Linked DNA regions of Homo sapiens: regions 1, 2 and 4 are each linked to region 3. The links come from fine-mapping of genetic effects on gene expression. A gene starts in region 3. Each other region holds a variant in brackets. All regions are shown on one strand. Distances are from middle to middle.

Region 1 (5,153 bases), 49 kb before region 3:
TTTGTTGTGTCTCTGCTAGGCTTTGGTATCAGGATGATGCTGGCCTCATAAAATGAGTTAGGGAGGATTCCCTCTTTTTCTATTGATTGGAATAGTTTCAGAAGGAATGGTACCAGCTCCTCCTTGTACCTCTGGTAGAATTCGGCTGGGAATCCATCTGGTCCTGGACTTTTTTTGGTTGGTAAGCTATTAATTATTGCTTCAATTTCAGAGCCTGTTATTGGTCTATTCAGAGATTCAACTTCTTCCTGGTTTAGTCTTCGGAGGGTGTATGTGTCGAGGAATTTATCCATTTATTCTAGATTTTCTAGCTTATTTGCATAGAGATGTTTATAGTATTCTCTGATGGTAGTTTGTATTTCTGTGGGATCGGTGGTGATATCCCAGTTATCATTTTTTATTGCGTCTATTTGATTCTTCTCTCTTTTCTTCTTTATTAGCCTTGCTAGCAATCTATCGATTTTGTTGATCTTTTCAAAAAACCAGCTCCTGGATTCATTGATTTTTTTGAAGGTTTTTTTGAGTCTCTATTTCCTTCAGTTCTGCTCTGATCTTAGTTATTTCTCACCTTCTGCTAGCTTTTGAATGTGTTTGCTCTTGCTTCTCTAGTTCTTTTAATTGTGATGTTAGGGTGTCAATTTTAGATCTTTCCTGCTTTCTCTTGTGGGCATTTAGTGCTATAATTTTCCCTCTACATACTGCTTTGAATGTGTCCCAGAGATTCTGGTATGTCGTGTCTTTGTTCTCATTGGTTTCAAAGAACATCTTTATTTCTGCCTTCATTTCGTTATGTACCCAGTAGTCATTCAGGAGCAGGTTGTTCAGTTTCCAAGTAGTTGAGCGATTTTGAGTGAGTTTCTTAATCCTGAGTTCTAGTTTGATTGCACTGTGTTCTGAGAGACAGTTTGTTATAATTTCTGTTCTTTTACATTTGCTGAGGAGTGCTTTAGTTCCAACTATGTGGTCAATTTTGGAATAAGTGCGGTGTGGTGCTGAGAAGAATGTATATTCTGTTGATTTGGCGTGGAGAATTCTGTAGATGTCTGTTAGGTCTGCTTGGTGCAGAGCTGAGTTCAATTCCTGGATATTCTTGCTAACTTTCTGTCTCATTGATCTGTCTAATGTTGACAGTGGGGTGTTAAAGTATCCCATTATTATTGTGTGGGAGTCTAAGTCTCTTTCCAGGTCTCTAAGGACTTGCTTTATGAATCTGGGTGCTCCTGTATTGGGTGCATATATATTTAGGATAGTTAGCTCTTCTTGTTGAATTGATCCCTTTACCATTATGTAATGGCCTTCTTTGTCTCTTTTGATCTTTGTTGGTTTAAAGTCTGTTTTATGAGAGACTAGGATTGCAACCCCTGCCTTTTTTTGTTTTCCATTTGTTTGGTAGATCTTCCTCCATCCCTTTATTTTGAGCCTATATGTGTCTCTGCATGTGAGATGGGTCTCCTGAATACAGCACACTGATGGGTCTTAACTCTTTATCCAATTTGCCAGTCTGTGTCTTTTAATTGGAGCATTTAGCCCATTTACATTTAAGGCTAATATTGTTATGTGTGAATTTGATCCTGCCATTATGATGTTAGCTGGTTATTTTGCTTGTTAGTGGATGCAGTTTCTTCCTAGCCTCAATGGTCTTTACAATTTGGCATGCTTTTTCAGTGGCTGGTACCAGTTGTTCCTTTCCATGTTTAGTGCTTCCTTCAGGAGCTCTTGTAGGGCAGGCCTGGTGGTGACAAAATCTCTCATCATTTGCTTGTCTATAAAGGATTTTATTTCTCCTTCATTTATGAAGCTTAGTTTGGCTGGATATTAAATTCTGGGTTGAAAATTCTTTTCTTTAAGAATGTTGAATATTGGCCCCCACTCTCTTCTGGCTTGTAGTGTTTCTGCTGAGAGGTCAGCTGTTAGTCTGCTGGGCTTCCCTTTGTGGGTAACCCGACCTTTCTCTCTGGCTGCCCTTAACATTTTTTCCTTCATTTCAACTTTGGTGAATCTGACAATTATGTGTCTTGGAGTTGCTCTTCTGGAGGAGTATCTTTGTGGCATTCTCTGTATTTCCTGAATTTGAATGTTGGCCTGCCTTGCTAGATTGGGGAAGTTCTCCTGTATGATATCCTGCAGAGTGTTTTCCAACTTGGTTCCATTCTCCCTGTCACTTTCAGGTACACCAATCAGACGTAGATTTGGTCTTTTCACATACTCCCATATTTCTTGGAGGCTTTGTTCATTTCTTTTTATTCTTTTTTCTCTAAACTTCTCTTCTCGCTTCATTTCATTCATTTGATCTTCCATCACTGATAGCCTTTCTTCCAGTTGATCTAATCGGCTACTGAGGCTTATGCATTTGTCATGTAGTTCTCGTGCCTTGTTTTTCAGCTCCATCAGGTCCTTTAAGGACTTCTCCGCATTGGTTATTCTAGTTAGCCATTCGTCTAATTTTTTTTCAAGGTTTTTAACTTCTTTGACATGGGTTTGAACTTCCACCTTTAGCTCTGAGTAGTTTGATCGTCTGAAGCCTTCTTCTCTCAACTCATCAAAGTCATTCTCTGTCCAACTTTGTTCCATTGCTGGTGAGGAGCTGCGTTCCTTTGGAGGAAGAGAGGCACTCTGATTTTTAGAATTTCCAGTTTTTCTGCTCTGTTTTTTCCCCATCTTTGTGGTTTTATCTACCTTTGGTCTTTGATGATGGTGACGTACAGATGGGGTTTTGGTGTGGATGTCCTTTCTGTTTTTTAGTTTTCCTTCTAACAGTCAGGACCTTCAGCTGCAGGTCTGTTGGAGTTTGCTGGAGGTCCACTCCAGACCCCGTTTGCCTGGGTATCAGCAG[C/T]GGAGGCTGCAGAACAGCGGATATTGGTGAACATCAAATGTTGCTGCCTGATCATGCCTCTGGAAGTTTTGTCTCAGAGGAGTACCCGGCCATGTGAGGTGTCAGTCTGCCCCTACTAGGAGGTGCCTCCCAGTTACGCTACTCGGGGGTCAAGGACGTGCTTGAGGAGGCAGTCTGTCCATTCTCAGATCTCCAGCTGCGTGCTAGGAGAACCTCTACTCTCTTCAAAGCTGTCAGACAGGGACATTTAAATCTGCAGAGGATTCTGCTGCCTTTTGTTTGGCAATGCCCTGCCCCCAGAGGTGGAGTCTACAGAGGCAGGCAGGCCTCCTTGAGCTGCGGTGGGCTCTACCCAGTTTGAGCTTCCAGGCTGCTTTGTTTACCTAGTCAAGCCTCAGCAATGGCAGGCACCCCTCCCCCAGCCTCGCTGCTGCCTTGCAGTTTGATCTCAGACTGCTGTGCTAGCAATGAGTGAGGCTCCGTGGGCATAGGACCCTCCAAGCCAGGCACGGGATATAATCTCTTGCTGTGCCGTTTGCTAAGACAGTTGGAAAAGCACCATATTGGGGTGGGAGTGACTTGATTTTCCAGGTGCCATCCATCACCCCTTTCTTTGACTAGGAAAGGGAATTCCCTGACCCCTTCCACTTCCCAGGTGAGGCAGTGCCTCCCCCTGCTTTGGCTCACACTCGGTGCACTGCACCCACTGTCCTGCACCCACTTTCTGACACTCCCCAGTGAGATGAACCCAGTACCTCAGTTGGAAATGCAGAAATCACCCGTCTTCTGCGTCGCTGACGTTGGGAGCTGTAGACTGGAGCTGTTCCTATTCGGCCATCTTGGCTCCACCCCCCTCAAGTGAACTTTTTTATATGATGTGAAGCAATGCTTGAATTTCATTGTTTTCTCTTACACACATCCAGTTGTTCCAGTACTATTTTTGAAAAGACTATGCTTTTGCCATTGTATTACCCTAGCAACTTTTCAAAAATCAATTTTATGTGGTTGTTCCTTTATTCTAAATGCCTAACTTTATACCAATATCACACTGTCTTAATTACTATAGCTTCACATGCAGTCTGAACATCAGGTAATAGAATTCTTCACCTGTATGCTTGTCTTTTAAAATTATTTTCACTATTCTAAATTCTTTGATTTCCATATACATTTTAGAATCACCTAATCTACACACACACACACACACACACACACACACACACACACACACCCCTGCTGAGATCTTAATTGGGTTTGTGTTGAATCTATAAGTCAATGTTGGAAGAATAGACTTTTTAATGAAATTATATTTTCTAATCCAAGAATATAGTATTTATCTCCATTTATTTAGGTCTTTATCTCAAAAAAATTGTGCAGCTGTAGTGTAGTATCAGGTATCCCAGGACTACCCTTAGGCTTAATGATTAGCTAAAATGATTCACAGGACTCAAAAATTGTTATGGTTATTGTTATTCCAGTGAAAGATAGAGTAAAATCAGCAAAGGGAAAAGGCACAGAGGGCAAAGTATGAAGGAAATCTGGAGCAACCTTCTCAGGGATGCACTTAATTTCCCCAACAACGTGTGACTCCACATACAAAGTGTTGCCAACCAGGGAGGCTCACCCAGGCTTGAGTGTCCAGAGTACTTATGGGGCGGGAAGATGGTCAGTCATGCGGGCACAGAGTGCCTTTGTGACTGGCCTCAGCTGCTCAGACAGCCACTGAGATGCTCAGCTAGTATTACTCCTTTATGCTGTTCGTGTGGTAAGTTGCACTGATTGAGTCTGACTTTTAAACCAAGCTCCCATTCTTAGCATAAAGCCCACTTGTTCAAAAGCTTTTATTGTTCTTGTCTATTGCTGGATTCAGTTTGCTAATCTTTTTGTGTCTGTGTTAAGACCACCCTGCTGTGCCAGTGCTGTGGTCTGGAAAGTGCCCCCCAGTGGAAAGCTGGGTGATTGCAGGACCCACCTCCTTTGTTTCTCTTCCAGGTGTCACAGTCCTGGGCTGCCCATTCTTCAACATCTGAAAACATTTCTTTCATATGTTTTGCTTCTTTCTTCTATTTGTTTGCAGTGGGAGGGCAGGTCCAATTCAGTTATTCTGTCATTTTGGAACTAGACATTTTTAGATAAAAATAATTTTTGAAAAAACAAAAATGAATAACACGACTTTTATTAAAATGTTCAGATTGTGTCAGTAACCATTGTATTTTTTAAATCTTTATTTTAGCACAATATAAGGATTTGTGGGCTGAATTTCAGACCACAGTTAAGGTGAGTTTTGCGTGTGTCTGTTGCCTCCATATAAATATCATATTTC
Region 2 (5,153 bases), 220 kb before region 3:
TAGAAAGAGAACATGAGGTTGAGTCTGGAATAAGCTTCAGTATAGGACCAAAATAATGCGTTAGTAAGGAGAAATGGGATTGGCAGATTCATACATCAACCATAGTGAATGTCACCAAATATCTTGTGTCAGTTGACTTTTAAATATTAACCGAGAACCAAAATGTCACTCCCCTAGGTACAAATCAAATTGCTTCTCCTTTCTTTTGCCTGCACTCTTAAATGCTGAATAACCTCATAAGTAAGATTTCTATTAGGCAAATTAGTGCATGCGTATTAGGAACCACAGTTTCTGGAGTGGAGTTCAGTGGGACTAACTATATTCCCTATGATTAGTCACTTTAATCATAGAATTATGAGGAAACTCATAAATTATCAAATCATATTCTCAAAGCCTTTTTTAGCAATGCTTAACCATGTGCTCTGTAAGTATACATTTGATTTTGTTCCCTAGAGACAATTGTTTCTGTTTTATGAAGTGTGAAACATTACTCATTGGCAATTATGAGTAACTTTTATACTTGTTAAGTTTTATTGTTGTGTTAATGTAAACAGAAACACTTGTGTTTGTTTCCATTTGTTCAATACACATTTATTAGGCATCTACTTTCGCCAGAAGCTGGGAGATACAAAGATGACCATGAGTCAGTTCCTGCCCTCTAGCAATTCAAAGGAGACATAGGTATAAACTTCAACAGCAGGAAAGGCAAGTGGAATCCTTCTGTGGGGGCAGAAGTAGTCTATCTACCCAGCAGCCAGCACAATGCATGGTATAACATTGGATGTGTAATAAATCTTGTTCAAATAAATAAAATAATCATGAGAAGATGTACCAGAAATAGTAATGCCATAAGGAAAGGAAGACAAATGGAGTTGAACCTTGAGCTAAGTCTTGAAATATGGAGCAGGTGAGAGAATTTCAGTTGAAGAAAAGAATGTGTGTAAAGTCCTCAAAGGGTGAAATAGCATGTGATTTCAGGGAATTAGGATAATTCCATTTTTCTGGAAAGTATGTCAGTGGCAAAGCCATGGGAGATGAAGATGGGGAGATGGGAAGGAGCCACATTAAAAAGCACATGCTGGATCTTCTAGCTTCTTAAAGGGTAGCACCATGATCAGATTTATGTTTAGAAAGATTTCTCCATGAGAAGGACAGATTGGTAACCAAAAGGATAGTTAGAAGATCACTAAAAAAATCTAGTGAGCAGTGACGAGGGTCTAAACTATAAACTAAAGCTGTAGCAGCTGAGAGGATGAATTTGGGAGAGATTTGGAAAGTAGAAATCAAGGTTTGAGGGTAGGGGAAGGGAACAGTGAGACAGAAACAGGAATCTGGGATGATCCTTGTGTTCTGATGTGATTAGCTGGATGAAAAAGAAGGCTGCTTAGTGGAACACGATCTGAGAAGGTGATACAGGGAAAATGAGTTCATAGATGCCTAGGAGACATTCAGGAAGATTTATTTAGTAAGCAGTTAGTGACCTGAACCTGGAACTCAAGAGCTAGGTCCAGGCTGGAGATTCAGAGCTGGTGGTACCCATGTCTGGTGGTAACTATGAGCATGAGTGAGAGAGCCCAGTGGAGAATACAGAGTATTAGTGACCCAGATTCATTATTTCCCAGTGCCTACTGCAGTGTGTGGTTTGGGGATGGAATTGATATGACACTCATCATTGATAATCATTATTGGAGCTAGAAAAAAGGGTTGAAAAAATAGTATGGAGAACATTTTGGCATTTTCAAATTACCATTTTTTAAGATTCAGAATGATTTTCTATTGAGAGACAGTTACTCATGGAATAAAACATATGAATCAAGAACCAAGTAAATTAAAAGCAAAGTAACTGACTTGTTTTTGTTAGAGGAAATATATGTTCATATGTCTAAATTAAGAATTGTTCATAGCAAATAATGCTTGGTAAGTTTTTGTTGGATTTGTACATGTGGAAATCTAAGATGTATTTAATAAATATGGAAATAATAAAATAGATTTGTAGTTTTATGAGCACTTAGATGAAAAGAGAAGCAGAGAAAAAAGAGAAAATGGGAAATAGAGATAGACACACACATACTATTAATATAGAAACTTATAAAAGACAAAATAACTGTAATCCATAATTCAACCACCACTGTCAAAATTTCAACATATATTCTATTATTATGTCTGTACATATTTTTGTATACTTGTTATGTTGGCTGTATAAATTCATATACTTCTTTTTTTAACTTGATATGATAAACATTTTCCCAAGTTATTAAAAACTCTTCATAAATATGGTTTTTCATGACAGCATAAAGATGCCTATCACTTTTCAGTTACTTAGTTACACATTCTCTATTGTTCAACATTTAGATTTTAGCTTTAAAAAACTTTAAATACCACTCCATTGAGTATCTTTGTTTATAAGGCTTTGTGTTCATTTCAAATTATTTTCTTGAGATAGATTTCTGGAAATAGAATTACCATACTAAAACATATGAACATTTTAAGGCTCCTATTGCCAAATTGTGTTTTAGAAAGATGATACAAATGTATACTTCCATCAGCTTTATGTGGCAATGCCTGGACACACTAAATAATACAGCATGCTATAAAGCCTTGTATTTGGGTTCATTGGGAAATTGGTAATTGGCACTAACCTTGTATTTTATTCAGTGAATTCACTGATTAGCTCAAATTAGTAAAGATAGACTTATTGTAAACAATGACAACTATCTCCTTTTTTATTTAACTTTTATGCAAAATAACTTTAAAATGGAATTCAAAACACACTTCCCTATATTTTGCATGGTTTCACTTGGAAATACTTCTCCAGAAGGAAAGAAATGCTTCTCTAACTGGTATGGAGGGAAAGAGGGATTGCTCTTTCCTTTTTAGTACTATTAAGCAACAATTGTCTATTTTGGAGGAGGTTTATGACTTCTTTCAAAAACAAAGTATCCCATTTTTTCCCCAGAGCAAAGC[T/C]CTTAGAAGGCAATAGCTAAGAGCTATGTTACTAACATGATTGTTCTAGGAGGAGCACTGCTCAGCTCCCATGGCAACAGGTACCATGGAAATAGACACACTTTGTCAGAGGTATTGTAAATGCTATTGGGTATGAGGGCAGTAGTTGCAGTGAAATTTCATTGTTGCTATGTTGTAGAGGTTGCACAACACACCAAGCCTTATTTAGATTCTGTTGATAAGTCTGACCTGGTTTTTAAGAAGTTCTATTTTTTTAAAAAAGAAAAACAAACCCCAACCCCCAACCTGTTAGACCTAAGATAAAATGAGAACAATTTGCAAGGTTCAAATTGTTCTGTATGGAAGCTCTGGAAAATTATATGCAAGTCTGTATGGAAGCTCTGGAAAATTATGATATTTCAGAGAACTGTGAACTTTGAAGTGTCTGTGGCAATAAGTGATAGGTTGAGTGTGAATAACTTAAATCCAGAAGTCATCCCCAGACTTCATTTGAGCTAAACAGTTCAGCTTCTTCTCATAGGTCAGGTCACTGTTAATTTTTGCAGTGACAATGATTAACAATGAAATTATTAAGAGTGATTACTAATATAACACCTGTTTTGTACTCTGCTGTTTTACTGTTCAACCCTTTTTAATAACCATTAAAAGGTACCTATGACTAGTACTATAAGCAGATTCATCCCACAGTTGGGGAAATTAAGGCATAGAGAAGAAATAAAGACCTCATGGTCTTAGCTGGAGAGAGGTAGAGTCTGGATTGAGAAAAGTTAGAGCTCCAGTCTCTAGCCTTATTTTACAAACATTGATACAATGGTAAAGATGAAACCTAAGTCAAAGGGTGTATGGGTTATCATTGGTGGCTCTGTTTGTTTAATAGATAACTCAATTTAGCAGAGAGGGCTGTACTATTGTTTCATTTCAGAGCACCTGTGCAACTTCTGATGCTTAAGAGGGAAATTGAGAATACTTCTCTAATTCATACCCAAGCCACCCTAACAATTACACATGATAATACTCAATACAAAATGTCAAGTTAGGGATTATCTTGGCCTTTTTCTAGTAGATTCCTACCTGTTCCCAGTCTTTTCCAGACACTGTCATCCCTCACAATCCAATCTGTCACTCTGCCAGGAGCCAAGAGGATTCAGATGCTATCCCTTGCTTTTTGAAATCACAGTTGAACTCAAGAACCCAACAGAGTTAGATACTAAGACCCTGCACCTGTATCTATGGTCCTTAAACTTATATGTGCATAAGAATTACCTGGATAGCCTGTTAAAAATGTACATTCTCAGCTTCCCATTCTGACTAAGTAAGCCTGGGGTGAGGCCCAGGAAGCTGCATTTTTAACCAACTCCCCCAGTGCTTCTGAAGCAGGTGGTCTGTGGTCACGCTTTGAGAAACCTGAAGATCAGCATGTCAGTCTGTTAAAGTCTCTTCCACACCAGTGAGCCTAAGGACAATGGGGACAGTGGAGGTTGAGGAAGGGGCAGTAGTGAGAAGGGAGGCCTGTACCTCTGTGCCTGGGAGCCCAGCAAGGAACCTTCAGCTCTTGAGGTCCCAACATGTGCTGTGGCCCACGCTGGACCTCAGTATGTGGGAAAAAGCAACCAGCTTTCAGAATTCACAAAGGATGAGGCACAAGGTAGAGAAACAGGGATGCTGCAATCTGCAATCTGAGTGCGCTGGCCCCTGAGTCAGTAAGAGTTGTCTGTAGATACCTAAATGTTTAAATCAATTTTCTTCTCTCAGACAGTGGAATCCAGAACATATATTAAAAAGAGACCACTTCCAGCCTGTAGGAAAAATGAAGTTTTGTAGCTCATTGATGGCTTCTTTCTTGCTGTTAGGAAGGCCAAGCCAGAGAAGCTAAAATGATTGAGCTAGGCCATTTTCGCATTAGCATTCAACCCTTAAATAAAACTTTGGAGAAAAGACCCCTTTTCACATTCCCCACGCACCCCTACCACCACTGCCTAAGCTTTGGCAGCCTTCCAAATCCTCCAGACCCCAGAACAGGACTTGTCCCTGGGCTTGTTTTCCAGGGTTTATATGACGCCCTTGTTCCCTTCTTGGCAATTCAAGTGAAACTCACCATCTCAGGCCACAGCGTGGTAGTCATTGTTGTAAATAGCTTTGACTATTTATTTTTCTAAAATGCCTAGAATAGCATTTAGATGCCAAGATCC
Region 3 (5,153 bases):
GTAAGTGGCATGAAGAATTTTTTTAAGAGCATTATGCCTAGCTGCCTACAATGTAGGAACTGGATGTGGGAAGACCGGTTAGGACAACAGTGACAACAGTAGTCCAAAGAGAGGATGAGAGCCAAGATTCAGGATGGAGGAGATGAATGGATGCAAAGATAGTCCGCAACTAAAATCCATAGGTCTTGGTTGATGAATTGGATGTGGACTGGTGGTAAGGAGGAGGGATTCATCAAGGAAAACTCTTAAGTTTTTGGCTTAAAAGCTAGAAGGATGGTTCTACCATATTCTGAGATACAGAGTATTGAAGACCAAGTTTTACCGGGGAAGTAGGAAGAAGATCATGCACCCATTTGATGTGCCACTGGCACATCAAGGAGAGAGATGCCAAGTAGCAGGACATGTAGGTTGGGGCCACAGACATAATTTGAGTAATGAATATATAGATTATCTTTGAAGTCCTGGATGTGAGTGAGATGGGGCCGAGGGGGGAGTCCAGAGGAGCTGAGAACAGGGCTTTGATGAACTCCAGCATGTAAAGGCAGGTGGAAGAGGATGAACTGGCAGAGGAGAGGACACTGAGAAAGATGAGGAAGGAAGGAAGCAGAAGAGTGCAGTCCTTCTGGTCCTTCTGAACCATGCACTTGCTCACGGCCCTCCCTTATGCTATTAGCCCCTCCTCCCCTGATGAAGTTCAGTCTCCAGAGCATGGCCTACAAGGCCCATCATAAGGTAGCCCCAATAAACTTTGATCATTTATTTCCTTCTTCACTCCCCATCTCCAATATCCTAGAATTCAGACACTGCTCACTTCAACACTAACCTCCAGACTTTGCACATTCATCAAATGTTCTTTCCCTTTCTTCTTTTTTTAAAAAGTCTAATGTCACCTCTTGTACAAAGTCTTTGTCAGGAAGACAAATAATTTCACTCACATATTTTTAAGACAATATTTAGCACACTGTAATATACTGTGTTGGCCGGTGGCTTAAGCTTATTTGGGCTGGGTTTCCTATCTTATATGTTGTTTCCTAAAACTAAGCACAATCTGAGAAGATTGTGTTTGCCAAATAAATTAATGTATGATAATTATATTTTTGCTTTGATTGACAAAATTAAGACAAAATCAGTCTAGATTAAGCTGGCATTGACTGCTCCCAAGAGGATATTTGGCAATATCTGAAGACAGTTTTAGTTGTCACAGCTGGGAGAGGTGCTACTGGCATCTCGTAGGTAGGAACTAGGGATGCTGCTGAACATCATACAATGTATAGATGGCCCCTGCAATAAAGAATTATCTGGCCCAAAAGTCCATGACGCTTAGGCTGACAAACCCAGTTTTGGTTTGCCACCTTAAACGTTCTTCTATTTATACTGTAAATTTCCTGTAGGATATTTTTTCTGAATGAAATAAGCACTCCAATACTAATACCATTGATTCTAAGATCTACAAATATACTAGTCATTCTTTAGAGCAGTGTTTCTCAAATTTGTGCATCAGAATCACTGGGAGGGCTTGTTAAAACATAGGTGCCTGGGCCCCACCACAGGAGTTTCAGTAGATCAGGGGTATCCTATGCACTGTAGGCCTGATAATTTGTATTTCTCAAGGTTTCCAGGGGATGTTGATGCTGCTGGTCCAATGTCCATACTCTGTGAACCACTGCTTTAGCGAAGAGCCCAGGGTTAGTTAACCTGAGGGTTTATCACACTTTTCCCCATTAGAGGCCATGCCCAGAAACTTGAGATGCAACTTCCCTGGGTAGCCCTGCCTTTCTTTTCCCCGTATCTCCCAGCCAGGTACCTGGAGCTGCATCTGTGGTGATTGCCAGGCTGGCAGCACCTTAGACTCAAAACATACCCCATTCCTGAGAACAGATGAAGGCTGCTAGCAGGGCAAGGCACCAATCCCTCTCCCCCCATTTATCAGCCAGTAGGGGCCTGAGGTCCAGGCCCTTGGAAATGAAGTAACATCTAAAGGAACTATCCTAGCTCCTCAGAGCACCTGTATCAGAATCACCTACGGGGTTTAGAGTCATGGGCCCATCCTTAGTAATTCTGTCAGCCTGGGAATCTGCATTTTATGAAACTCTTGACATCAGTGCTTCTGTAAGTGTGGTCCTGGGACCAGCATCATCATCACCACCCGCGAACCCGTTAGAGATACAAATTCTTGGGTACTTCCCCAGACATATTCGAAACGCTGGGGTTCAGACCTCGTCACTTGTATTTTAACACGCCCTCTATGTGAATTCTGTTAGCTCAAGTTTGAGAATTACTGGTTTAAATTAGTCTGCTTCTCAAGTTTAAGATGTCTGGATGTAGACTTCTGGATTTTTCTTTCACTTCACTTTCTAGATTCCTTTCCTACCTGTATATACCAAAAGCACCCACAGGAAGCAGAGTGCCCCCCCCACCACTCCCCAAAAGGCCTGCCTGTAGAACATTTGTACCCTACAAAAGAGAGCAAGAGTGAACTTTCGTTGAATCTGGTCATTTGTTTGCATGCCAGTCGGCACTTTATCTGGCCGGACATTGGTCCCTCAGGAGGTCGACCTGGCACTCTCGGAAACCCGAACACCCGGGCCGGTAACCTCCGGAGTGGCGGTGTCGCGGGTCGGCTTTGCAGCGGGTACTGGGCTGCCGTCCCGCCCCGCGCTCCTGCGTAAACACGCGGTTCCCTCGGCAACGCTGGAACCCACGTCAAAGGCTCCGCCAGGTCCCCAGCGACCGCCACCCCTCCGGCCGAGCCCAGCTCCCCGCGGCGGCCGCTAGCCCCCGGCCCCGAGCCACCACTCCGACCTAGCGGCCGCCGCCCCCGGTGCGGGATGAGGAGATCCGCGGCCGCCACTGGGCCCCATGGAGGAGCCGCAGCCGCCCCGCCCACCAGCGAGCATGGCCTTACTGGGCAGCCAGCACTCCGGCGCCCCCTCCGCGGCCGGCCCACCTGGCGGGACTTCCTCCGCGGCCACGGCGGCCGTGCTCTCCTTCAGCACCGTGGCGACCGCGGCGCTGGGGAACCTGAGCGACGCAAGCGGAGGCGGCACAGCTGCCGCTCCCGGTGGCGGCGGCCTTGGCGGGTCCGGGGCAGCGCGGGAGGCGGGGGCGGCGGTGAGGCGGCCGCTAGGCCCGGAGGCGGCGCCGCTGCTGTCGCACGGAGCTGCAGTGGCGGCCCAGGCGCTCGTCCTCCTGCTCATCTTCCTGCTGTCTAGCCTTGGCAACTGCGCGGTGATGGGGGTGATTGTGAAGCACCGGCAGCTCCGCACCGTCACCAACGCCTTCATCCTGTCGCTGTCCCTATCGGATCTGCTCACGGCGCTGCTCTGCCTGCCCGCCGCCTTCCTGGACCTCTTCACTCCGCCCGGGGGTTCGGCGCCTGCCGCCGCCGCGGGGCCCTGGCGCGGCTTCTGCGCCGCCAGCCGCTTCTTCAGCTCGTGCTTCGGCATCGTGTCCACGCTCAGCGTGGCGCTCATCTCGTTGGACCGTTACTGCGCTATCGTGCGGCCGCCGCGGGAGAAGATCGGCCGCCGCCGCGCGCTGCAGCTGCTGGCGGGCGCCTGGCTGACGGCCCTGGGCTTCTCCTTGCCCTGGGAGCTGCTCGGGGCGCCCCGGGAACTCGCGGCGGCGCAGAGCTTCCACGGCTGCCTCTACCGGACCTCCCCGGACCCCGCGCAGCTGGGCGCGGCCTTCAGCGTGGGGCTGGTGGTGGCCTGCTACCTGCTGCCCTTCCTGCTCATGTGCTTCTGCCACTACCACATCTGCAAGACGGTGCGCCTGTCGGACGTGCGCGTGCGGCCGGTGAACACCTACGCGCGCGTGCTGCGCTTCTTCAGCGAGGTGCGCACGGCCACCACCGTCCTCATCATGATCGTCTTCGTCATCTGCTGCTGGGGGCCCTACTGCTTCCTGGTGCTGCTGGCCGCCGCCCGGCAGGCCCAGACCATGCAGGCCCCCTCGCTCCTCAGCGTGGTGGCCGTCTGGCTGACCTGGGCCAATGGGGCCATCAACCCTGTCATCTACGCCATCCGCAATCCCAACATTTCGATGCTCCTAGGGCGCAACCGCGAGGAGGGCTACCGGACTAGGAATGTGGACGCTTTCCTGCCCAGCCAGGGCCCGGGTCTGCAAGCCAGAAGCCGCAGTCGCCTTCGAAACCGCTATGCCAACCGGCTGGGGGCCTGCAACAGGATGTCCTCTTCCAACCCGGCCAGCGGAGTGGCAGGGGACGTGGCCATGTGGGCCCGCAAAAATCCAGTTGTACTTTTCTGCCGAGAGGGACCACCAGAGCCGGTGACGGCAGTGACCAAACAGCCTAAATCCGAAGCTGGGGATACCAGCCTCTAAGACGGTTGGAATGGCCAGCTTATGAAGGCAAATTTCCACTCGCATTATTTAATGATGGAAGATTCTGGGGGAGAGTTGTGGATTTCATAAAGCCAAACATTTAAAGCTAGAGACGGGGGAGGCTTACCACTTTCCCCAAACAACATAAAAGACAATGTCCCTTCTTCAAAAGTGCCAAAAGGAATGTAAAATGCAAAAATTAAAACAATCTTAAACCACATAACCAAGCATTGTGAACTGTAAGTGCCAAAAATGACAAAAATAACATTCACTATAACTGAAAAGCTCATATTATAGGACCACACTGTGAAACAAACAAAACATTGAATGCAACCAGTATTGTTCAACTACACAGAATTTCAGGAATGAATGGAGACCTTCAGAGCTGCTTGAAAGCCCCTCTAAATCGCTACCATCCAACAAAACTTTAGCTTCTAGAGCTTGCACCTCTGACATGCTTTGGGTGCTTAGATTGCAAGTGGAAAAGTCTTATCCTTACACACATTGGTGCACCTCCTCACCCCACCCCCTAATAACCTTTGTGGAAAATTTTTAATTCATAACCCATTTAAAATCATTTTAGGATTTTGAAAAGCTGGTTATTATTAGATAAAATTCAACCATCTGAAGGACAAATAGAAGTATGAACATAAAGAAATGTGTCTTTTAAATGTTTTCCAAGATTATATGTAAAAATTAACATTCCTTCCACCCGCGTCATACCTCCAAAATGATCTTCCTTGGAAAACTTTGAAGTTTTATCCTTACTCTAACCTGTTACTTTTATTTCTGATAAATTTTGGAATGCT
Region 4 (5,153 bases), 21 kb after region 3:
GTCAATGAGATGCGGCTGTAGTCCAGGAATAGTCAGGGAAGCAGATAATTTAGTTAAAGTGTCTCAGCCTAATAAGGGAACTGGGCAGGTGGGGAAAACTAAAAGGAGTGCTTAAAAGAGTATTGTCTAAATTGTACCAGAGTTGGGGAGTTTTAAAGGTTTAGAAGCCTGGCCGTCAATACCTACAACAGTTACGGAGGCAAGGGAAACAGGCCCTTGAGAAGAAGGTAATGTGGAGTGGGTAGCCTCCATATTGATTAAGAAGGGGACGGACTTACCCTCCACTGTGAGAGTTACTTAAAGCTAGCATCTGTGATGGTCTACGGGGCTTCCAAGGCGATCGGGCGGCATCAGTCTTCAGCCGCTAAGCCGAGAAGATCTGGGAAGGAGTCAGAGAAGCCAAGAAGATCTGGGAAGGAGTCAGAGAGCCTTGGGCCAGAGTTCCAGGGGCTCTGGGAGTGGCTGCCAGGTGAGTTGAACAGTCTGATTTCCATTGGGGTCCTGCACAGATGGGACGTGGCTTAGGAGGAATCCTGGACTGCAGGCATTCCTTGGCCTGGTGGCCAGATTTCTGGCACTTGTAGCAAGCTCCTGGGGGAGGTGGTTCTGGAGGAACACCTGGCCACTGTGGTTTAGGCGTTTGGAAGTTCTTGTGAGCTGGAGATGTGGCTGGGGTTTGTCTCACAGTGGAGGCAAGGAATTGCAACTCCGAAATATGTTGCTACTTAGCCGCCTCTATTATTGTACACCTTGAAGGCAAGGTTAATTAAGTCCTGTTGTGGGGTTTGAGGGCCAGAATTTAATTTTTGGAGTTTTATTTAATGTCGGGAGCAGATTTGGGTAATAAAATGTATACTGAGAATAAGACGGCCTTTTGACCTTTTAGAGTCTAGGGCTGTAAAGTGTCTTAGGGTTGATGCCAAACGAGCCATGAACTGGGCTGGATTTTTATATTTGATGAAAAAGAGCCTAAACGCTATCTGATTTGGGATAAAGAAAAAGGAGCATTAACCTTGACTATGCCTTTGGCTCCAGCTGACTTTTTAAGAGTAAATTGCTGGTCAGGAGGGGGAGGGCTAGTTACGGAACGAAACTGTAAGCCGGACCGGGTGTGAGGAGGGGAGATGATAAAAGGATTATAGGGTGGAGGAGCAGAGGCTGAGGAAGAATTGGGATCTAGCTTGGCCTGGCAAGGAGGGGAGGTGTCGTCCCTGCGTGGTCTGACACCTCTGAAACCTGGGTGAATAATCAGAGAGGTGTGTCCCTGCAATGATTAAACACGAAGGGAAGGCTGCCTTCCTTAGTCCGTGACTGGCGCCAGAGTTTTGGGTCCACGGATAAAACGTGTCTCCTTTGTCTCTACCAGAAAATGAAAGGAATTGAAATTAAGAGAAGGGAGAAATTGAAGTGTGGCGCCAAGATTGAAAGAAAGAGGTTGAGGGATAGCGAGGGAGGTTGGAGAAGACAGTAAAAAGAGGCCGCTTACTGGATTTGAAATTGGTGAGATGTTTTTTGGGCTGGTCGGTCTGAGGACCTGAGGTCGTAGCAGAGGCCTGACATCTTTCTTAGAGGAATGTGCTCTCTGGTCAAAAGTAGAGAATAACTCCATGAGATTAAAGCAAAACATGCATCTACCTGATTCAATATGTTCAAGGGCCCCACTACATGGGGCAGTTTAATTGTTGGTTTGTTTTTTGAGACAGGGTCTTGCTCTCACCCAAACTGGAGTGAGGTGCAGGATCATAGGTCACTGTAACCTCCAACTCCTAGGCTCAAGCAATCTTCCCACCTCGGCCTCCCAAGTAGCTAGGACTACAGACATGCACCATCATGCCCAGCTACATTGGGCAGTTTAAAAGTAAAAAAATTTGTCAATCTACTTGTTTACTCTCCAGAGAACATAATCGATTTGACTGAAAAAAATTAATACTGGTTTATCTTTAGCTACCAGGACTACAGACAAACCAAAGGAAAGGCAGCACATATTTCCTTACTTTCTGGCAGTCATTAAGTTCCTGCTGGTTTCTGGATGTCAGGGGTCCAGAGACAAGTACATATTTTCTTTTCTTTTTTTTTTTTTTTTTTAGTATTTATTTATTTATTTAGAGACGGAGTCTCACTCTGTCGCCCAGGCTGGAGTGCAGTGGCACAATCTCAGCTCACTGCAAGCTCCA[T/C]CTCCCGGGTTCACGCCATTCTCCTGCCTCAGCCCCCCCAGTAGCTGGGACTACAGGCGCCCGCCACCACGCCCGGCTAATTTTTTGTATTTTTAGTAGAGATGGGGTTTCATTGTGTTAGCCAGGATGGTCCCGATCTTCTGACCTCGTGATCCACCCGCCTCGGCCTCCCAAAGTTCTGGGATTACAGGCGTGAGCCACGGCACCCGGCGACAAGTACATATTTTCTTGATAGCACTACTACAGTACATCTATTCCCGTTGTGAAGGGGGAAAATTCAAACAGCAGTTCACCTGCAATTTGAAAGCCTGAAATACTGCTGATTCCCCACAAGGAGGCTCCATTATCAAGTACAACAATTTTCAAAGCGGGAATGCCCCAACGATTTTGAAAAGCAACACATCAGAACACATTAAACTTTCATAATCTTTAAATGCTTTAACATTCTTATTGATAACAGTTTGGCTTTAATTATCACATAAAAATTTAATCTATCATTTTTGTGCTATGCAAAGCCAAGACAAATGTATCATATATTAAATACATAATTTAATTAAGCTGAGTATTTAAACAAGGCCGAATTTTTTTCTCAGTGGGAGGAAGGGAGGACGATTGGTGATTATACTAAAAACCAATTTTCTTATGCTTCAGTTATTACATGTGATCAAAGAGTTATCACACAGGTTCAACTTTGGCTTTCTAAGTCAAACAAACAAGCTTTATCTTGGCTAAAATTCTTTATAAGGCAAAACATATTGACTGGTAGCTCATTGCCTAATTGATAACACATATGTCATGGCATTATTTTAATATGACTCTTTAACAATAAAACAGTTAATATTTCCTATTGGATCGTGTAACATCTTAAAATATTGGTAATAACAGTTCCAAATGGTTATAAATGTATTTGAAGTATTTGAACAGGAAATAGAGACTAAATATATACATAAATAATTTGTTACAATTTAGATTTCTTTGAATGCATAATGTTGAAATTAGTTTTTCCTTTTGCATCTTTAATTCTCTGAAAGAAGAACTTAGAATGACTTTTAGTGCTCTAAGCGTTCAATTAACTTTTCATTTAAATTATTTATTTTATATGATGGATGGAATGCATCAGGGCAACTGAGAAATAAGGCAAATTTCTTACATTTGGAAAATAGAGTTAGGCTTGTGATTTGAAAGTTTTAGTTTTCTAAGACTATTCTTTAGAGAGTGGGATTTGGGATGTATCTAGCATTTATTGATTGCCTCCATGAAGTCCTTTGCTCATATTATTTCATATCAATGGGCCGGATATTACTATTCCCCATTGCATAGATGAAGAAGCTGAGACTCAAAGAAAAATAACTTGTTCAAGATAATATAGCCAGCTAAACAACAGCAGGATTGGGATTAGAACCCACAGCAGGGATGGATGGGAAGAGAGGCAGACAAGGGTGGAGGTTTGGGGATCTGAGAGTGAGGAGGAGGCAGGATGAAATTAACAAGGGTAGAATCTTTTCTGGGAGTTCACAGAAGTAGTAATTTATATCCCTTAGCATGCCTCCTTTATCCCTATCAGGCCCTCTGCGGCTGGATGAATCTCTGTTTTTCCAGTCAGTTTGAATCTTAGCATCAATATTATATTTGAAATGTAAGAGTGAAATTGCCTTTCTGTGACATCTTTTTAACTGATTACTGGGCACTTAGGCAACCAGCTCCCGAATGTCTGGTTACTCTTAATAAAGGTCAGGATTGCACCTAGCTAGCCTCACTAATAGAGGAGACCTTGTGGCCATCTTTCATAGCAGCCTGAGGCAAGTTGTCATGAATTCACTGAAACTTGCTGATTTCCCCTGTGCACCTGAAAGAACCTGGTTCCCTTAGTGATGTCCATTCAGCCTGAATAACTCTACTGCTTCCCCTCTGCCAGCACACCACCCACCCTGTCAACGATGGTGAAAATCTGCAACCTCTTGTTTACCTTCATGTGTGGGGAGCCTCTCCCATCCTTCTCACAAGGATATAAGGAGATTGCATTCTAACTTGCTTTGATTACTCTTAGCTTACATACAGAATCACCTCTTTAGAGGAAAGGGAAGTTTCTCCCAGTTCTGTCTTTGGAAATGGGAGATTGGTCTTGGAGTCTTAGACTAACACAGATAGATCATTAATCACAAAGACTGTCTCTGGAAACTGAAAAAGGTCAGATTCTCTTAGAAACTGTGGGATGGGTGTGGTGGTACATGCTCATAATCCCAGCACTTCGGGAGGCCAAGGTGAGTAGATGGCTTGAGTCCAGGAGTTCAAGACCAGCCTGGGCAACATGGTGAAACCCCATCTCTATGGAAAAAAAAAAAAAAAAAGTTGGGTGTGGTGTTGTGTGCCTGTAGTCCCAGCTACTCAGGAGGCTGAGATGGGAGGATTGCTTGAGCCCAGGGAGGGTGAGACTGCAGTGAGCCGAGATCATGCCACTGTACTCCAGCCTGGGCAATAGAGTGAGATGAGACCCTGCCTCAAAAAAATAAGTAAATAAAATAAAAATGAAAAGAAAGAAACTGCACAATAAGACAAGGGCAGGGTGGAGAGTTTGTTTTAGTTACACAAGACACCCATGCAACACGACAACACCCCTTTAAAACATACAAAGTCACATAACTTCAGAATTTCAAGATTTAGTTAAAAAAGAAAAGAAAGGATGGAAAATGTGATACTGTATACATTTTCTGCTGTCTTTGTGCTACTGAACATTCTCTAATGAATGTCTCCTAAACATCTTTCTGTGATCTACTTTGAAAGGAGAACAGAAGGGAGGGAAGAACAGAGAGGAGACTAAAGAGAGATAAGGAGAGGGAAGGAAGAAGAGGGGGCTAAGGAGGGAGAGAAGAAGATAAAGAAAATTTACAAAAGAAAGGAAGAAGGAGAGAGAGAAGTTGTTTGCTATTGTGGCATATTAGGTGAGCAATGAACACTTTGTGCATTTATTCGTTTGACACA

Alleles and levels. Alleles are on the strand shown, and positions count from the first base shown. SD is a standard deviation of normalised expression in the study named. Not every link is listed here.
As copies of C replace T in region 2, the expression in tibial artery of the gene that starts at base 2,706 in region 3 goes up (small effect, 0.30 SD a copy in GTEx).

What was found. PIP is the estimated chance that this variant, and not a neighbour inherited with it, causes the effect.
Region 1: its variant is fine-mapped to the expression of GPR135 in T cells (TOPMed, PIP above 0.99).
Region 2: its variant is fine-mapped to the expression of GPR135 in tibial artery (GTEx, PIP 0.95).
Region 4: its variant is fine-mapped to the expression of GPR135 in blood mononuclear cells (TOPMed, PIP above 0.99).

Annotation. Positions count from the first base shown.
Region 1 is chr14:59,511,714-59,516,866 of GRCh38, reverse strand. CCDC175 (coiled-coil domain containing 175) reads left to right here. Exons shown (of 20, transcript NM_001164399.2): 18 at 5,064-5,107. Among named protein-coding and RNA genes, the nearest start is that of JKAMP, 30 kb to the right of the region's middle. The variant C/T (reference allele first, on the strand shown) is at 2,834.
Region 2 is chr14:59,677,986-59,683,138 of GRCh38, reverse strand. All of the region lies in intron 3 of RTN1 (reticulon 1), which reads left to right. Among named protein-coding and RNA genes, the nearest start is that of MIR5586, 34 kb to the right of the region's middle. The variant T/C (reference allele first, on the strand shown) is at 2,965.
Region 3 is chr14:59,462,933-59,468,085 of GRCh38, reverse strand. GPR135 (G protein-coupled receptor 135) reads left to right here and starts at 2,706. Exons shown (of 1, transcript NM_022571.6): 1 at 2,706-5,153. The coding sequence starts at 2,860. The coding sequence ends at 4,344. It also overlaps a transcript of L3HYPDH not described here. RefSeq lists a silencer at 2,636-3,175.
Region 4 is chr14:59,441,758-59,446,910 of GRCh38, reverse strand. No RefSeq gene overlaps it. Among named protein-coding and RNA genes, the nearest start is that of GPR135, 21 kb to the left of the region's middle. The variant T/C (reference allele first, on the strand shown) is at 2,175.